4 linked regions of the Homo sapiens genome follow. The protein of the gene in region 2 purifies or fractionates together with the protein of the main gene of each other region. This does not show direct contact. Each region holds a gene or a part of one and is shown on either strand. Other genes may lie near its edges.

The links.
Region 1: the proteins of DDX55 (region 2) and SETD4 fractionate together in Homo sapiens (co-fractionation; one large-scale study listed by BioGRID). This does not show direct contact.
Region 3: the proteins of DDX55 (region 2) and AVEN purify together in Homo sapiens (affinity purification with mass spectrometry; one large-scale study listed by BioGRID and IntAct). This does not show direct contact.
Region 4: the proteins of DDX55 (region 2) and ZC3H4 purify together in Homo sapiens (affinity purification with mass spectrometry; one large-scale study listed by BioGRID and IntAct). This does not show direct contact.

What each region holds. Positions count from the first base shown.
Region 1 is NC_000021.9:36,057,643-36,061,947, forward strand, and holds the start of SETD4 (SET domain-containing protein 4), read right to left. Parts: upstream 2,885-4,305; 5' UTR 2,705-2,884; exon of another isoform or gene 2,180-2,704; intron 1,332-2,179; exon of another isoform or gene 1,283-1,331; 5' UTR 1,247-1,282; coding exon 1,174-1,246; intron 1-1,173. UniProt on the Homo sapiens protein: Protein-lysine N-methyltransferase that methylates both histones and non-histone proteins. Via its catalytic activity, regulates many processes, including cell proliferation, cell differentiation, inflammatory response and apoptosis.
Region 2 is NC_000012.12:123,604,841-123,608,607, reverse strand, and holds part of DDX55 (ATP-dependent RNA helicase DDX55), read right to left. Parts: exon of another isoform or gene 2,678-3,767; coding exon 2,627-2,677; exon of another isoform or gene 2,581-2,626; coding exon of another isoform or gene 2,536-2,580; coding exon 2,449-2,535; intron 1,177-2,448; coding exon 1,085-1,176; intron 1,009-1,084; coding exon 946-1,008; intron 1-945. UniProt on the Homo sapiens protein: Probable ATP-binding RNA helicase. Has ATPase activity and is involved in the maturation of precursor large subunit rRNAs.
Region 3 is NC_000015.10:33,868,121-33,871,887, reverse strand, and holds part of AVEN (cell death regulator Aven), read left to right. Parts: intron 1-857; coding exon 858-953; intron 954-3,767. UniProt on the Homo sapiens protein: Protects against apoptosis mediated by Apaf-1.
Region 4 is NC_000019.10:47,068,693-47,072,459, reverse strand, and holds part of ZC3H4 (zinc finger CCCH domain-containing protein 4), read left to right. Parts: coding exon 1-108; intron 109-338; coding exon 339-682; intron 683-3,116; coding exon 3,117-3,368; intron 3,369-3,767. UniProt on the Homo sapiens protein: RNA-binding protein that suppresses transcription of long non-coding RNAs (lncRNAs). LncRNAs are defined as transcripts more than 200 nucleotides that are not translated into protein.

The DNA.
Region 1 (4,305 bases), on a different chromosome or scaffold from region 2:
TTCATGTGGAAATGTAAAAAGCCTAGAATAGCCCCAATATCTTTGAAAGATTGATTTTAAAACTTATTATAAAGCTACAGTAATCAAATTAGTGTGATATTGTCAAAACAGACACAAATAGGTCAAAGGAACAACACAGAAAATAGGAAGAGGTCCACACGTAAATTTTTGACAAAGTGCAAAGGCAAATCAGTGGAAGAAGATAGTCTTTTCAATAAATGATGATCAAACAACTGGACCTCCATCAGCAAAAAAAAAAGTGAGCTTATCGATATCTTGTACCATATCCAGTTGGATTTACATAGGACTTTCCAGATGGCCAAGCACTTTTGTATTGAACAAGATACAGTATCTTCTTCAGACAGGGTTACCCTGAATTTGAAGTCATAAATTTACATCCAAACATTGATATCCTACAGATAGCTGAAGGTCAAGACCAGAAAAAGAAAGTTGGGAGTCATCCCCAGAGAAGACAGTTGAAACAATGAGTTAGTTATCTTCACATTCCCACCAGGATCTAAAAGAATACAATGGCACCATTAAAAAAGAGTGTTATTTAAGAAATATTCTCTTTGGGCTGGGCACAGTGGCTCACACCTGTAATCCCAGTGCTTTGGGGAGGCCAAGGCAGGAGGACCACTCGAGCCCAGGAGTTCAAGACCAGCCTGTGCAACATAGACCCTGTCACTACAACAAATTTAAAAAAACATTAGCCGGGTGCAGTGGCATGTACCTGTAGTCCCAGGTACTTGGGAGGCTGAGGCAGGAGGGAGGCTAAGGGAGGAGATCACTTGAGCCTGGGAGATCAAGCCATGATCACGCCACTGCATTCCAATCTGGGTAACAGAATGTACCTTGTCTCCAAAAAAAAAAAAAAAAGAAAGATTCTCTTTGAACACTGTGTGCCTTTGAGAAAAGCTATGTGTTAGGCCGAGCATGCTGGCTCACGCCTGTAGTCCCAGCTACTTGGGAGGCTGAGGCAGGAGAATCGCTTGAACCGGGGAAGCAGAGGTTGCAGTGAGCCAAGATGACACCACTGCACTCCAGCCTGGGTGACAGAGCGAGAATCCGTCTCAGAAAAAAGAAAGAAAGAAAGAAAAGCTACGTATGAACAAACAAGCAATCACAAAAGGATTTCTTTTTTCATTACTGGTACTAAAAGAAAAACCATACCTCCTCTTGATTCAGAACTTCCGCAGAGTTTTCGTCTTCTGATCCGGCTTGTTCTCCCTTTTCCTTTCTGCATGCTAAAACTGTAGTTTCTTTTTTCTGAAATACAGTTCTATTTTTTCAAAAAGGACAAAACTGTAATTTCTGTGGAAATGCTCAATCTAAAATAAAAAACATTTCTTTGATTTACTTTCCAGTTATATGATAATCACTGTTCTTTGTACCTTTAAGTATACAAATGTATGTTTTGGTAAACTGTTTCTCTCAAGTGCTTTTGTACATGAAACGTTTATACTGTGAGCTAAATCATGATCCCTACAGTAACAGAATTCCCATTATATCAGTCCCTCTAAAACAGTTTTATCTTGCAGACCTAGTGACTACAGCTTAATCTACTAAAAATACAAAAAATAGCTAGGCGTGGTGGCACACGCCTGTAATCCCAGCTACTTGGGAGGCTGAGGCAGGAGAATCGCTTGAACCTGGGAGGCGGAGGTTGCAGTGAGCCGAGATCGCGCTACTGCACTCCAGCCTGGGCGACAGAGCGAGGCTCCGTCTCAAAAAAATAAAAAAATAAATACATAAATAAAAATAAAATAATGGCTGGGTACAGTGGCTCACGCCTGTAAAACCAGCACTTTGGGAGCCCGAGGCGGGCTGAGGTCAGGAGTTCAAGACCAGCCTGGCCAACATGGTGAAACCCCGTCTCTACTAAAAATACAAAAATCAGCCGGGCGTGGTGGCAGGCACCTGTAATACCAGCTACTGGGGAGGCTGAGGCAGGAGAATCGCTTGATCTCAGGAGGCGGAAGCTGCAGCTAGACGAGATCACGCCACTGCACTCCAACCTGGGCGACAGAGCGAGACTCTGTCACAAAAAATAAATTAAAAAAATAAAAATAAAAAATAAATCTACTTCTAAAACATACGAGGGCAGAAATGAGCAAGAGACAAGAACTCCAGGCAATATTAATACCGCACTTCCGCAGTATAAGGTTCATTATTTGACCTAACGAAAGTCGGCATGTCCAGCTCCAGAGGCGAACGGCGGCTGGTTCGGTGCGGGTCCCAGCGCTCAGTCCACAGACCGCGCCGGGAAGTGTCCCCAAGACTCCCGGGCCCTCGCGCGAGCTGTCCACCATCACCCTGCTGAGGACCACGTGAAGCCCGGTGACCGCCACAGACACAGGCACCGTCCCCGCCCCCATAGTCCTCAAACTCTAGCCGTGAGGCCGTCCTACGGTCCGACACACACCGCTCCCGCAGCCATAGGCCAGCCAGGCGAGCATCGGACCTCGGGCCTCAGGCTCCTCAGCTTTACGCAGCGCGCCGGAGCAACATGCGCTAAGTGTAGGACTCCACAAGATGAGAGGTTACTGCAGCGCACACGATAATGCCTGCCCTGGAGGGGACCTGCGACCTAAACTCAGTTCTTTTTACGCTGATGAATGAAAGACTAAGGAACGCACCCCGCCGACTCTGCTCCCGTTACCCGGGCAACTGGAGGCCCGACCCGGAAGTCCTACTAGCTCACCTAGGCGCCGGCGGCCGCTTCCAAGATGGAGGCTGCAGTGGGCGGGCCCAAGGCACGTGGAAATACCAAACAGCCCCAGATGAAGGCAAGTTAAAGGAACCGGCCAAAACTGCAGAGGGAGAGGCTGAAGGCTGTCGCGCCTGCCTGGTGTCCTTAAGCAATCCAAGTCCTCAGTCTCCCGGGTCCGCCCCTTCCGCCGCGGGCGGCAGCTTCCGGCTCGCGCATGCGCAGTGTTCGCGGACTCGCCGCCAACGCCCAGTACAGTCGGGGACGAGGTCGGCACACCCACAGCCCCATAACCCCTACGTCGAGTCAGGGGTCAGAAAACCCAGTAACCCGCAGGCGAGCAAGCTGCGCACTGAAAAGCCGGCCTGCGGAGTCTTTCCTTACGAAGTTAAACCACCTAGGGCGCGCGGCCCTGTTCGCCCAGACCTCGGGCTTTCCTGCCAGGCTGGGTTTGCCGGGTCGAGTCACTTTGCTCGCCAATCCCCGCCCCCATTCCACCGTTTCATTCTGGCCCCAGGACCCGCCTCACAGGAAAATTCTAAATAATATATCTAAATACCCCTTCTTCCAATAGCGGGAGCTCGATTTCTGCCCCACCCACCCCCACTTTGATTATGGGCTATGCCTAGTAACTTGATTCCAAAGAGTACAGCCTGGAATGGTGTTGGGGACTACAGTGGAGAAACCTGGCAAACAGTACCTTACCGGGTGGTCAAGGATAACATCAGGAAGAAATCATGCTGATAGCATGTTCCTGTGGTGTCTCTCTCCAAAACCCTTCTATGGAAATCTTCTATGGGGGAAAAAAAATTAGTACTCCTAAACATGTTTTCTGTCATGAAAAACAAGTACAGTTGTCCCTTAGTGTCCGTGGGGGAATGGTTCCAGGACCCTGCGGATACCAGAATTAGAATGCTCAAGTCCCTTGTATACAATGGTGTAAACCTAAGTAACAAAAGAGGCTCCCTAAAAGAAAATGAGATTTATCTGGGAGTAGCATTGCAATGGGAATATGCATGCCATAGTAAACTGTGTGCGTTTTGGGGGAGGTTGAGGCAAGGAGATGTTTTTAAAAGGAAAATGAAGATTATATGAATTGCTTTAAATCAATTATCTTTGGCTAAAAGAATGAATAACAAAGGTAGCATCAGTCCAAAGTTGCTGGACAGATGTCCTTGCAGAAGGATTTTCTGTGTTTAAGATTGGGCCTTTCTGCAAGGTTAGGGTCTTTTGTGACAATTCTTGTTATGAGGCGTAGTGCATGAGAACCCTTCCTTCAAGGCCTTCCCCAGCTGCATTTATCAGGGTTTTGACACAAGTGACTCCATTTTGATTCTGCAACTTTCACAATGGTGTAATATTTGCATATAACCTATGCACATCCTCCCATATACTTTAAATCATCTCTAGATTACTTATAACATCTAATACAATGTAAATACTATGTAAATAGTGAAGGGGTGGCCTGCCGCTCCACACCTGTGGGTGTTTCTCATCGGGTGGGATGAGAGACTGAGAAAAAAAAGAGACACAGAGGCAAAGTATAGAGAAAGAAAAGTGGGCCCAGTGGACCGGCGCTCAGCATACGGAGCACA
Region 2 (3,767 bases):
AAGTTTTATATCCCCCCAAAGTCATTTAAGCCCTAGTGAAGAGAACGAAGAGCATGAGAGTAGAAGAGTGCTGCAGGGTAGAAAGACTGAGGGCTGTGGTGAGACGGGATCTGGGTTCTGGGCTATGACCTAGGCAAGGTTGGCAAACTCCAGCTCCCGGACCAAACCTGGGCTGCTGCCTGTCCTTGCCAAGTATTTTATTGGCAGAAAACCACGCCCATTTATTCACATGTTGTCTATCGCTGCCTTCACACTACAACAGCAGTTGAGTAAGTGCGATGGAGACCATATGGTTCACAAAGCCGAAAACATTTACCATCTGCTCCTTTATAAAAAAAAAGCTTACCAACCTCTGACTTACGCAAGTTACTCAACCATTGTAGGTCCCAGGTAACTCACTTGTAAAATGGAAATGTTGACAGAATTAGAGAATCCTATGTAAAGATCACAAACTGGCAGACTCAGGGCCAGATGTGGCTCCCTCAGACTGGCTCACCTACAAGATATGTTTTTCAAATGTGGATTACACGCCAACAGTTAAAAAATCAGGAGATTACACACACAAATCTGGAATTCCATCTTCTTTTTAAAAAATTCAAAACCTGCCACTACTGAGCCGAGTCCTCCCAGGCAACTACCAGCTGGAGCTGAGTATTCAAGGCAGCTGCTGGCCAGTTCCTCACCATCCCCCAGCCCCTGACCACTCATTTATCTTCACGTCGTTCTCTTGACCTCTGTAAGAACCTGAGTTTGTGAAGTTCTCATCAGGGCCTTATGGGAAGGAGCCAGCAAAGCACAATGGGAAGCTGGCCTGGAGAAAACACCTTTTTGCAGGGGGAGGAGGCTGCTGAAAGGGGGACCCACAGTTAGGCTGAGATCACACATCGATTCTTAGGTTCAATGCCAAAAGCAAGCAAAGAAACAAGCAGACACGAGCAAACTCACCCTTGTTGCTTAAACCTCTCAACATCTTCTCCAGGATTCCTGCCTCCGATCCAAAGAATCTGGCTACAACAAGAAAACAGCCTTTGATTAAGTTCGACAAAACAGCCCATGACTAACAGGGACACTGCATCCAATTCACCTGAACTCGGGGAAGTGCTTCGTGAAATGCGACAGGACCTCGTCTATTTGAATGGCCAGCTCTCGAGTGGGGGTGATGATTATGGCTCCAACCTACCCACATGGAAGGAAGGGACACAGTCAGCAGCACAAGGGACTCCCAGAGAGGAACTCATAGGCCCTCCGCCCTCTACCACACAAAGGAAAGTTCCAGAGAAACAGTAGTTCCCAGACTTTCTCAGCAGCATCTCTGAGCACATATCAACTACTTTGAATTACGGTTACTCGTCATCATATACTGCAGTTATGCTCTTTCAAGTCATGAAGAACAGTGAATTAGTCAATGCTGAACCACTGCTCACAGGGGAAACACAGGGTTAGGTTCCTGCCAGTCTTTGGGCATGACATTTTTGTCAACCAATCAATACATAAACCTATTTTATGTCTGTTTGTGCTTAAAAGACTCTATTTAACATATACTATTGATTCATTCTCATTGAACTCGTGGCCAACAGCACATTAACTCATGCCTTAGCTTGTGCTTCTCTAGCACAGGGATTTTCTCTGCACGTCATAACCTTCTTGCACCCAGGAACACTAGACTGCACTACATCACGGGGCCATTTCAAAAACCAAAATCACCAACATAAAGCACAAAAATGTGCAAAATGGCCGGGCGCGGTAGCTCACACCTGTAATCCCAGCACTTTGGGAGGCCGAGGCGGAAGGATCACTTGAGCCCAGGAGTTTAAGACCAGCCTGGGTAACATGTCAAAAAATACAAAAAATGACCCAGACATGATGGTCCACACCTGTAGTCCCAGCTACTTGGAAGGCTGAGGCAGGAGGACAGCTTAAGCCTGGGAGGTGGAGGTTGCAGTGAGATGAGATCACACCACTGCACTCCAGCCTGGGTGACAGAGCAAAACCCTGTCTCAGGGAAAAAAGAAAAAAAAAAAAAAGGTAAAAAACATGGCACTAAATAAATGACGAAAAGGACACTGTTTACACCTGAGCAGTGAAAACAAAGGCAGCTCTGCCCACGCCCATGACCACAGAAGCACCGAGGATCCACTGGGGTGTTCTAAATTTTAACGAGCAGGCAAATTCACAAATACAGAATCCACAAATAATGAGGATTAACTGTCTTTTTTTTTCAAGTTTCATTCATTCATTATTTGTAGAGATGAAGTCTCACTGTGTTGCCCAGGCTGGTCTCAAACTCCTGGACTCCAGTGATCCTCCAGACTCAGTCTCCCAAAGTGCTGGGATTACAGGCGTGAGCCACGGCTTCTGGCCTATTTTTTCACATTTGTAGCCAGCTTCTTAATCCAATGTGAACTCTCTGATGACTAGGTGAAAATAAATCACTTTTGTTGTCCTCACCTGACTCTTTTTTAACTTCTCTTCTCTTCTCAGAAGAATTTCCAGGATGGGGATGACAAAAGCGAGTGTTTTGCCACTACCTGTGACCTGCAAACAGAGAGTTTTGGTTTCCCTTTCTTCCTCAGAGTTCATCTGAGGGAGAACACGAGGACAGGCTGCACATACCCGAGGCACTCACCGCTTCTGCAGCGACATCTTTGTTTCGCATGAACAGAGGGATGGTTGCGGACTAAAGAGAGAGATTGCAAAGCACTGGTTAAAGGATGCCATCAATTCACAGGTGAGACCCGAAGCCCTAGGAACATAATGGGCAGCTAAGGTCACAGTGGGTCCCACCACAAAAGGGGCTCTGAGTAACCAAGTCACCATAGAGAAGTTGAATCAAACGTGGCAACTGTGTCTATGTGGACGGCGTGTGGGGACAGTGAGCTGAGCTGGGAGGTGGGAGTCCTGAATTCTAGCCCTGTCGCTCCTACTTTCCTCTCTGAACCAGGAAGGCGTTGAAGACATTGGGTTTTAGGGTCCCTTCCAGCTCTAGTATCACAGAATCATGATTCAAATAAACCCTCTCATTTTAAGCACTGTAGAGGTTGCCAGACTTTAAAAGAAACCTGGTTTTAGCAATCAAAAAAAACCTCAATTAGATTCAGGCCTTGGCCTGGAGGCTGCTCCCTCCAGGATTCAGCCCTGGTCCCCAGGGCCTGAGCTCACTTAAATCACAGCAGGTGTAATATTATTCTAACTGCCTCTACACAGTGATTGCTATCCCCCTGCTCAACCCCTGAGGGAACATTTGACAATGTAAGGAGACATTTTTGGTTGTCAAAACCCAGGGTGGGCCAGGCGTGGTGGCTCACATCTATAATCACAGCACTTTGGGAGGCCCAGGTGGGTAGATCCCTTAAGGCCAGGAATTCCAGACCAGCCAGGCAACACAGGGAGACTCTGTCTCTACAAAGAAAATTTTTTTAATTATGTGGGTGTGGTGGTGCATGCCTGCAGTCCCAGCTACTCAGGAGGCTAAGGTAAGAGGATCACCTAGGCCCAGGGAGGTCGAGGCTACTGTGAGCTGTGACTGTGCCACTGCACTCCAGCCCGGGTAACAGAGCAAAACCCTGCCTCAATAAATAAATAAATAAATAAAATACAACCAGGGTTGGGAGGTGATGTCCTCTGATGGACAGATTCCAGTGATGTTGTTAAACATCCTACAATGCCCAGGACAGCCCCATAACAAAAAATTTTCCAGCACAAAATGTCAATAGTGCCAACAGTGAGGACCCTGCTTCAGGCCATTGCTGTCCAATAGAAATAAAATG
Region 3 (3,767 bases), on a different chromosome or scaffold from region 2:
TCACTGCAGCTAACTTTATATCTAAGGCCTTCTTCAGCTTTAGCCCTTTATGGGGCAAACTGGTGACCAAAAAAGAAAGCCTTCTTACAAAGTGGCTTTTTTTTTTTTTTTTTGAGGAGACTAGCTCGTTTGAAACCTTCGCAACACCTGTCAGTCCCTTCTCACTGCCTAAATAGCCCTTTCCTCTTCTGAGGCCAGCAGTCTGAATTTAGAGAAGAGATCAGGTTAGATTTCATTAAATGCTTGCTTTTCTTTCAGCTTGTCAGTCATTGCAAAAGCCTCCACCGTTTCCAGGTTACTGGACAGTCTTTTTTTTTTTGAGATGGAGTTTCACTCTTGTTGCTCAGGCTGTTTTGCAGTGTTGCGATCTCGGCTCCCTGCGGCCTCTGCCTCCCAGGTTCAAGCGATTCTCCTGCCTCAGCCTCCCGAGTAGCTGGGATTACAGGCATCAGCCACCATACCCAGTTAATTTTTTGTATTTTCAGTAGAAACAGGGTTTCACCATGTTGGCTAGGATGGTCTCAAACTCCTAACCTCAGGTGATTCACCCGCCTCGGCCTCCTGAAGTGCTGGGATTACGGGCATGAGCCACTGCGCCCAGCCTGGACAGTCTTGATGGGAGGATGATCATTGCCCTGTTGTTGCTCTGACAGTGTGAGCTGTGGCTCAAGAAGGTAGCTTTGGTTTTACTGATCATAATGTGGAGATGCAGAAACTCTAACACATAAGTGTGATGTATGGTGTGACTTATTCCTAGCCAAATGTAACTCCAGTGGATTATTTACAGTTTCTTCTTTTATTTCCAAAAGGTCATAATCATCACCTGATATTTTATTTTCTTTTATATATATATATAGAATTCAGCATTTTATGTGGATAGTGAGTTATTGGTTCGAGCCCTTCAAGAGCTGCCTCTCTGCCTCCGACTCAACGTTGCTGCCGAACTGGTCCAGGTAAAAATCCCGAAGCCCTCTTGAAGCGGGTGGATTAGGGCAGGAGGAGAAAAAGAGGGGAACACTTCCCTCAGCAGGATGTCTCAGTGTCAGCTTCCCTTTATAAAAGTGAGGGTTTCATATCAAGGTAGCATTTTGTAAAGTTTAAAGGAGAATCCAAAAATTTTTTGAAGTTACTTTTTTATATTTTATATTTGAAACATTTTAAAGGATCAAATGTAGTGGAATTGAGTGAAATGTAAAATATAAAGTCTGGCTATTTTACTCAAAATATTTACGCATCACGCTCTATGTTCGGCACTAGGGACACAGTGGTGAACAGACAGATGTCGTTCCTGCCTTTCTGGAACTTAATCTATTGGGAAGGATGAATATTAATCAAATAGTCACACAAACATATACAAATTGTAATACATCCTGTGAAGTACAGTGTGCTTTTAGAGTAAATCAGTTTCTGGTGTGGTGTGGTTAGGAATGGCTTTCTGAAGCAGTGATAGATGAGCTGAGGTCTAAAGCATAAGGACATTTGAGCTGGCATTTAAACGAGAAAGACCCAGTCAGCTTTGCGTTAATAAAAACGATGGGGCTGCCAAGTAGAGAAGACTGTGGGATTGGAGTGCATGTGTGGGGGTAAGTCTGCATGTGCACATACACATGCACAGAGCAGGTGAGGGAGGCACATGGGGAGGCTGTTGTACAGGTGCAGGTGAGTAGTACTGTAGCTTGGACTACAGTAATGACGGTGGAGATGGCAGAGGAGAGGGCTGTACTGAGGTACTTCAAAGGTACAATTAACAGGATTTGACGGTATATTGGAAATTGGGAGAGAGTGGTCAAGAAAAAATTCAAGACTTTGTAGATTGTGCAACTCAGTGGTAGGATCAGGAAGGGTGAGTTTTGGACTTTATGAGTTTGTGCCTCTGAGATATCCAAGTGGAAATAACAGTCAACTGAATGCTGAACTTTATAGTTCTACATCAAGGGCTAGAAATACAAATTCAGGAGATAACAGGATGAAGTGATAATTGATGAACTAAGAGAGGGGGAGGCCCAAAGATTATGCCATGAAGAACTTCAACATTCTGGCACGATCAAAAAAAAAAAAAAAAGTGAAACCTTGGGACGTACTGATTTTAAGTAGAATCCTAGCAACTGAAATTATCAACTTCCTTCTGTGGGTGAATGTGATGCTAAGCTTGAGCATAGTAATGAATTGGTTACCCATTCATTTGCTGTATAGCATTTACTAGTCTAAAATTTGGGACAGCAGGCAGAGTTCAGGGATGGAGGACAGTTAGGGACAGGGTAGAGAACTAGAAAGAATTACATTTGCCTCTGATGGGGGATTGCCCTGGGGGTTCTTTGGAAACATTTGGGGGTGTTTGGGAGAGCACTAGTGGCTCTTCTGCTGATGTCCAGTGATGTTCAAAGTTCTGAAGTGCTTGGCTTGATCTCATATGATGAGGAATGTTTAGCAGAACTCACCAGGGAAATGCTGAGATAAAGGATTCAGGACTCAGGACAGAGAGGAAGTGGTTGTGAGTGTTTGAAGTGAAGGTTGTAATGTCAGTGGCAGGCATTAAAGGTATAAAATAATTATGTGACATTGAAATCCTGGCTAAATCACTTAGAAACATTTCTCCCCCACCCATGCTGTAGAGCAGTATTCTCTACCTTGTTTGCACATTAGAATCACCTGGGGAGTTAAAAACAAACAAAAACAAGGCCAGACACCCACCCCAGAACAATTAAATGACTCTAAGATTAGAATAGAGGACCATGTCCCAGCTTTGCCCTGTACAACTGACTGACTCTGCTGGATATTTATTCCTGTTTGTATATAAAGCCATACCGTCTTACATGTCTGCTCAGGATGTTTATGTAAAAATAAGGGGTCAGGACCTCCAGTAGAGGTTGAACTTCTGAACCTGCCCACTGTGAGGCCTTGCTCATCCCTGGAGCCTTCCCTCGAGAGCGGTGATTCTCAGCCTTAGATTATAACCTTGTATTACAATCACCGGGGGAGTTTGTAACTTTTATTAAAGTATAACATCGATTCAGAAAAGTGCACATGTAAGTATACATGGAATGAGCATCCGGATAAAGACTTAGAATATTGTCAGCACCTCAGAAGCCACCATTCATACACACTCCACGTCACTCTCTCCCCAAAAGGCACTCGCTCACCTAACTTCTAATACCGTAGCTTTTGAACTTTTTACAAATACAATCATCAAATAGTGTATTTTCTTTTGTGTCTGGCATTTTTTACCAAGGAGAGTCTTGGTGAATTTGTTACTGCACCTTTATATTAGTGCACTTAAATACAATGAACAGATCTGATTTGCTAATTACTTCCTGGTGACTTTTTTTTTTTTTTTTTTTTTTTTGAGACGGAGTCTCATTCTGTTGCCCAGGCTCGAGTGCAGTGGTACAATCTCAGCTTACTGCAAGCTCCGCCTCCCAGGTTCACGCCATTCTCCTGCCTCAGCCTCCCGAGTAGCTGGGACTAGACACTCTCCACCACTCCTGGCTAATTTTTTTGTTTTTTGTTTGTTTGTTTGTTTGTTTGTTTAGTAGAGACAGGGTTTCACCATGTTAGCCAGGATGGTCTCAATCTCCTGACCTCATGATCCACCCACCTTGGCCTCCCAAAGTGCTGGGATTACAGGCATGAGCCACTGCGCCTGGCCACTTCTTGGTGACTTTTTATAGATGTTCATGTCTTAATACAGATTTAAGTGTAAAGCCAAATAGACCTATGGTACTGGCAGTTTTCAGGCCAGGGCTAGGAAGACATGGATCTTTTCATTC
Region 4 (3,767 bases), on a different chromosome or scaffold from region 2:
GTCCCCGCAGCAGCTGCAGCAGCAGGACATGTACAACAAGAAGATCCCCTCCTTGTTTGAGATCGTGGTGCGGCCCACGGGACAGCTGGCTGAGAAGCTGGGTGTGAGGTGAGTGCCCTGGACCCCCGTGACAGGCAGTGGGCGCTGTCCTGGGCCCAGCCAGGCTCCTCTTGTTAGGGCAAGCCTGGCTGTGGGAGAGTCCTGCCTCTCTCCCCAGCTGTGGGAGTCCTGGTCTGGGGCCCATGACCTTCGGCTCTGCAGCCCTCCGCCTCTCCTCTGGGGTGTGGCCACTGCCCTCCTCGGCAGCTTCCGTCACAGGCACCTTTTCCCTCTTCTAGGTTCCCTGGACCCGGTGGACCCCCAGGGCCAATGGGCCCTGGGCCCAACATGGGACCCCCAGGGCCAATGGGCGGTCCAATGCATCCTGACATGCACCCCGACATGCACCCGGACATGCACCCTGACATGCACGCAGACATGCACGCAGACATGCCGATGGGCCCTGGCATGAATCCTGGCCCACCCATGGGCCCTGGCGGCCCTCCAATGATGCCCTACGGCCCTGGAGACTCCCCACATTCTGGAATGATGCCCCCTATCCCGCCAGCCCAGAACTTCTATGAAAACTTCTACCAGCAGCAGGAGGGCATGGAGATGGAGCCCGGACTCCTGGGGGATGCAGGTATGCGGGACTCCAGGTGTGGCTGCCTGGGGCTGCAGGCTTTACCCAGTGGAGCAGAGTTGGGGAGATGTGATTTTTCTTCCTTCGTCCAAGTCTCTTTGAAAGCATGACTCCATCTCTGTCCCATTTAATGGTTGAATGTTTTCAGTGACATAGGATGTATTCTGTTGAAGAAGAAAGGAGTATTCTGTGTATTACCAATATAGGTTATTTCTTTTTAATTTTGCAAGCTGTGCCTGGAATCGGAAGCATGGGAAGTTAGAGGGACGAGTGTGCAAGGGTGTGAGGCTGAGAGGCTGGTGGGCCCATCAGGACTCAGTTAGTGGCCTGGCCAAAACCATCTCTTTCCGGGCAGTTCTCGGCTTGGAGCAACCAGTGTCCACCCCAGGACTCTGCGGGTTCTGTGCCCATTACCGGCCGTTTTCCTGCCTTTTTTTCCTTTTGCATTGGTAACAAATGTCCAGTGAGCAGAGGGGTTTAGATGACGCTGCTGCAGCCATAGGAGATGTGGTGTGCAGCCCTCTGGAGGAGGGCCAGGCACGAGAGGCCACCACTGTCCTCGCTCAGTTGCATCTTGGTGGAAACAAGCAGGTGGCAAGCGTGTAGATAGAGGAGTTGGCTCCTTTCAGCATTGGCCATTCTTAGAAGAAAAGGTGGGGAACCGTGGCGGTGGGCCAGAAGGCTCAGTGCCTCAGTGGGGATAGTCACAAAAGTCTCTTTGAGAAGTGAAGCGGCACTCACAACGTGAGGAATGATGGGACCTCCGAGGGCAGCGGGTGGGGGCGCTGTGTTGAACTGGGGGAGCTGCTGTGGCAGCTGCTGGGGGCTGTCCCTGGGCAGAGGCAGCAGGGCGGCCACTGGAGTGCAAGGCAGGGCTTCGAGGTTTGGACACGGTGCCGTGGGGCAGTGGGAGCCCCGTGTTTGTTTTGCAAGGTGGGCAGGAGCGGCATTGAGGATGGGGCGCTGGACGTGCGGCATAGTCACTCTAGGGTGCCTGCCCCTCCGACGGCCATGTGGAAATTTTGAGGGGGTGGTTTAAGGGGCATTGGGAGAGGCCCAGGCTAGAGATCAAAATGTGAACGTGGGCTTTGGCTTTAGGTGGTGCATGGACCTGGGAGAGCAGGTACTTGGGTGAGAGTGGGTGCTTTAGAAAGAAAGACGAGAAAAACAGGCTGCCACAGTAGGTGCTGGGGTTCTCAGCTCCTCCCCCTTCAACAAATGCGTCTAAAAGGTGCACGGGAAAAGCTCTGCTGGCGGGGCACCAGAAGTCCGTCACGTTGGTAGCAGTAGGTGTCTCTAGAATAATCCCATTTCATAAAATCCTCCCTCTAACATGTATGGTCATTGGTTTCTGGTGTGTGCACAGACTGTGTGTGAAGGGGGACCCTCGGCTGTCTGGTTCATGGAGTGGGTCCCAGCTCTGCGCTGGGATGTGTCATAGAGCAGGCTGGCCCATCAGGTTCACTTGACGAAGTTGAAATTAATGTAAGCTAAGTTACAAGTGCACTTTTCTAGACACCACGTTTTAAATGCTCAGCTGCCCCAGGAGGATCTAGGCGGCCACATGTTGCCCTGCAGATCTAGAACATTTCCATCACTGCAGAGCGTTCTGTGGGGCAGCACTGACTCCAGACGCCCCCCCCTCCGTTTCGGTGATTCGATGTCTCCCATGCTCACATGTGTCACACACGCAACATGCAGGAGGCGTCGCCGAGCCTGCCCTCCCCTCTACGCCTGCTGCGTCCCCACGTCAGCCTGTGCTGCTGCCCACAGCTCTTGGCTCAGGCACTGGGGGAGTGTGTGGGGTGAGGTGGCTGGTGCCAGTGCCCACGCTGCAGGAGGTGGAGGCCCCGTGCTTCCTGAGACACCCCCTAATGCTGTGGAGTGGGCAGGGAGGCACTCTGGAACTGCTGTTGACCTGTGGCCAGAGCAGCACTTGACCCGTTTCATTCTCTTTTCCTGGCTTTTAGTGTTGAACATGGTCGAGTTCACTATGAGATGCATGGTGTTTCCTTACTGATTGTTAGAAAGAAACCGTGCAACTCCTATCCATCCAAAATAATTTAAAAGTACAGGAAAGAGTACAGAAATCCCTGGCCTCTCCAGAATCTGTGTTCCAGAGGGACTGTTTCTGTGTGTCTTTTCAAAGCTTTCTCCTTGCGTCTTACAAACGTACATCCAATGTTCCATCCTGTTTCCACCTCATAAGCGTTTGCCCGCATCACTCAACCCTCTCTGTGAACCTCATTCTTCATGTAGGCGGGGCTACCCATGGGCCGCTCTGTTCCCCTGAGACCTGGGGAGGGCAGGCAGGGGCAGGCTGTGCGTCCTTCTCCATCGCCATCGGTGTGGGTTTGCAGTGAGGGGCAGGGGGGCTGGAGTTGGCACCTGGAGGCCCTTCCCGACATGAACCCTCGGTTCTTCCCTGCCACAGAGGACTACGGGCACTACGAAGAGCTGCCAGGGGAGCCTGGGGAGCACCTCTTCCCTGAGCACCCTCTGGAGCCCGACAGCTTCTCTGAGGGAGGGCCCCCAGGCCGGCCGAAGCCAGGCGCCGGTGTCCCTGACTTCCTGCCCTCAGCCCAGAGGGCCCTGTACCTGAGGATCCAGCAGAAGCAGCAGGAGGAGGAGGAGAGAGCGAGGAGGCTGGCTGAGAGCAGCAAGCAGGACCGGGAGAATGAGGAAGGCACGTGTCCGCCCCAGGGGCCGGGGCACAGGCCCCAGGCCGCTGTGCAGGGGAGCGGCGGTGGTGGGGTGTTCCAGGTTGGGTTTCCTGTCAGGAAGGAGCCCATGGCTAGGGAGGACCCCTGTCCAGGGCCATGAAGCCGGGCTGGGGCTGCTGCATGTCCCTGAGAAAACTGGCAGTCAGGGGTGGCTTTCTGTGTTGGGTTCAGGAGAGACCCTGATCCCATGGAGTAGGATGGAGGGCTAGTTCCTGGAGGAGACAGTGGCCAACAGGATTGACCGCCTGTGCCCTGCCAGAGGAGGCTTTAGGGAGACCCTCACAGCCCCTGTTTTCCTACCGTGTTCTCAAGGAGCCAACAAACAAGAGCTAGTCATTGAAATTAACCAGTAATAATCATAG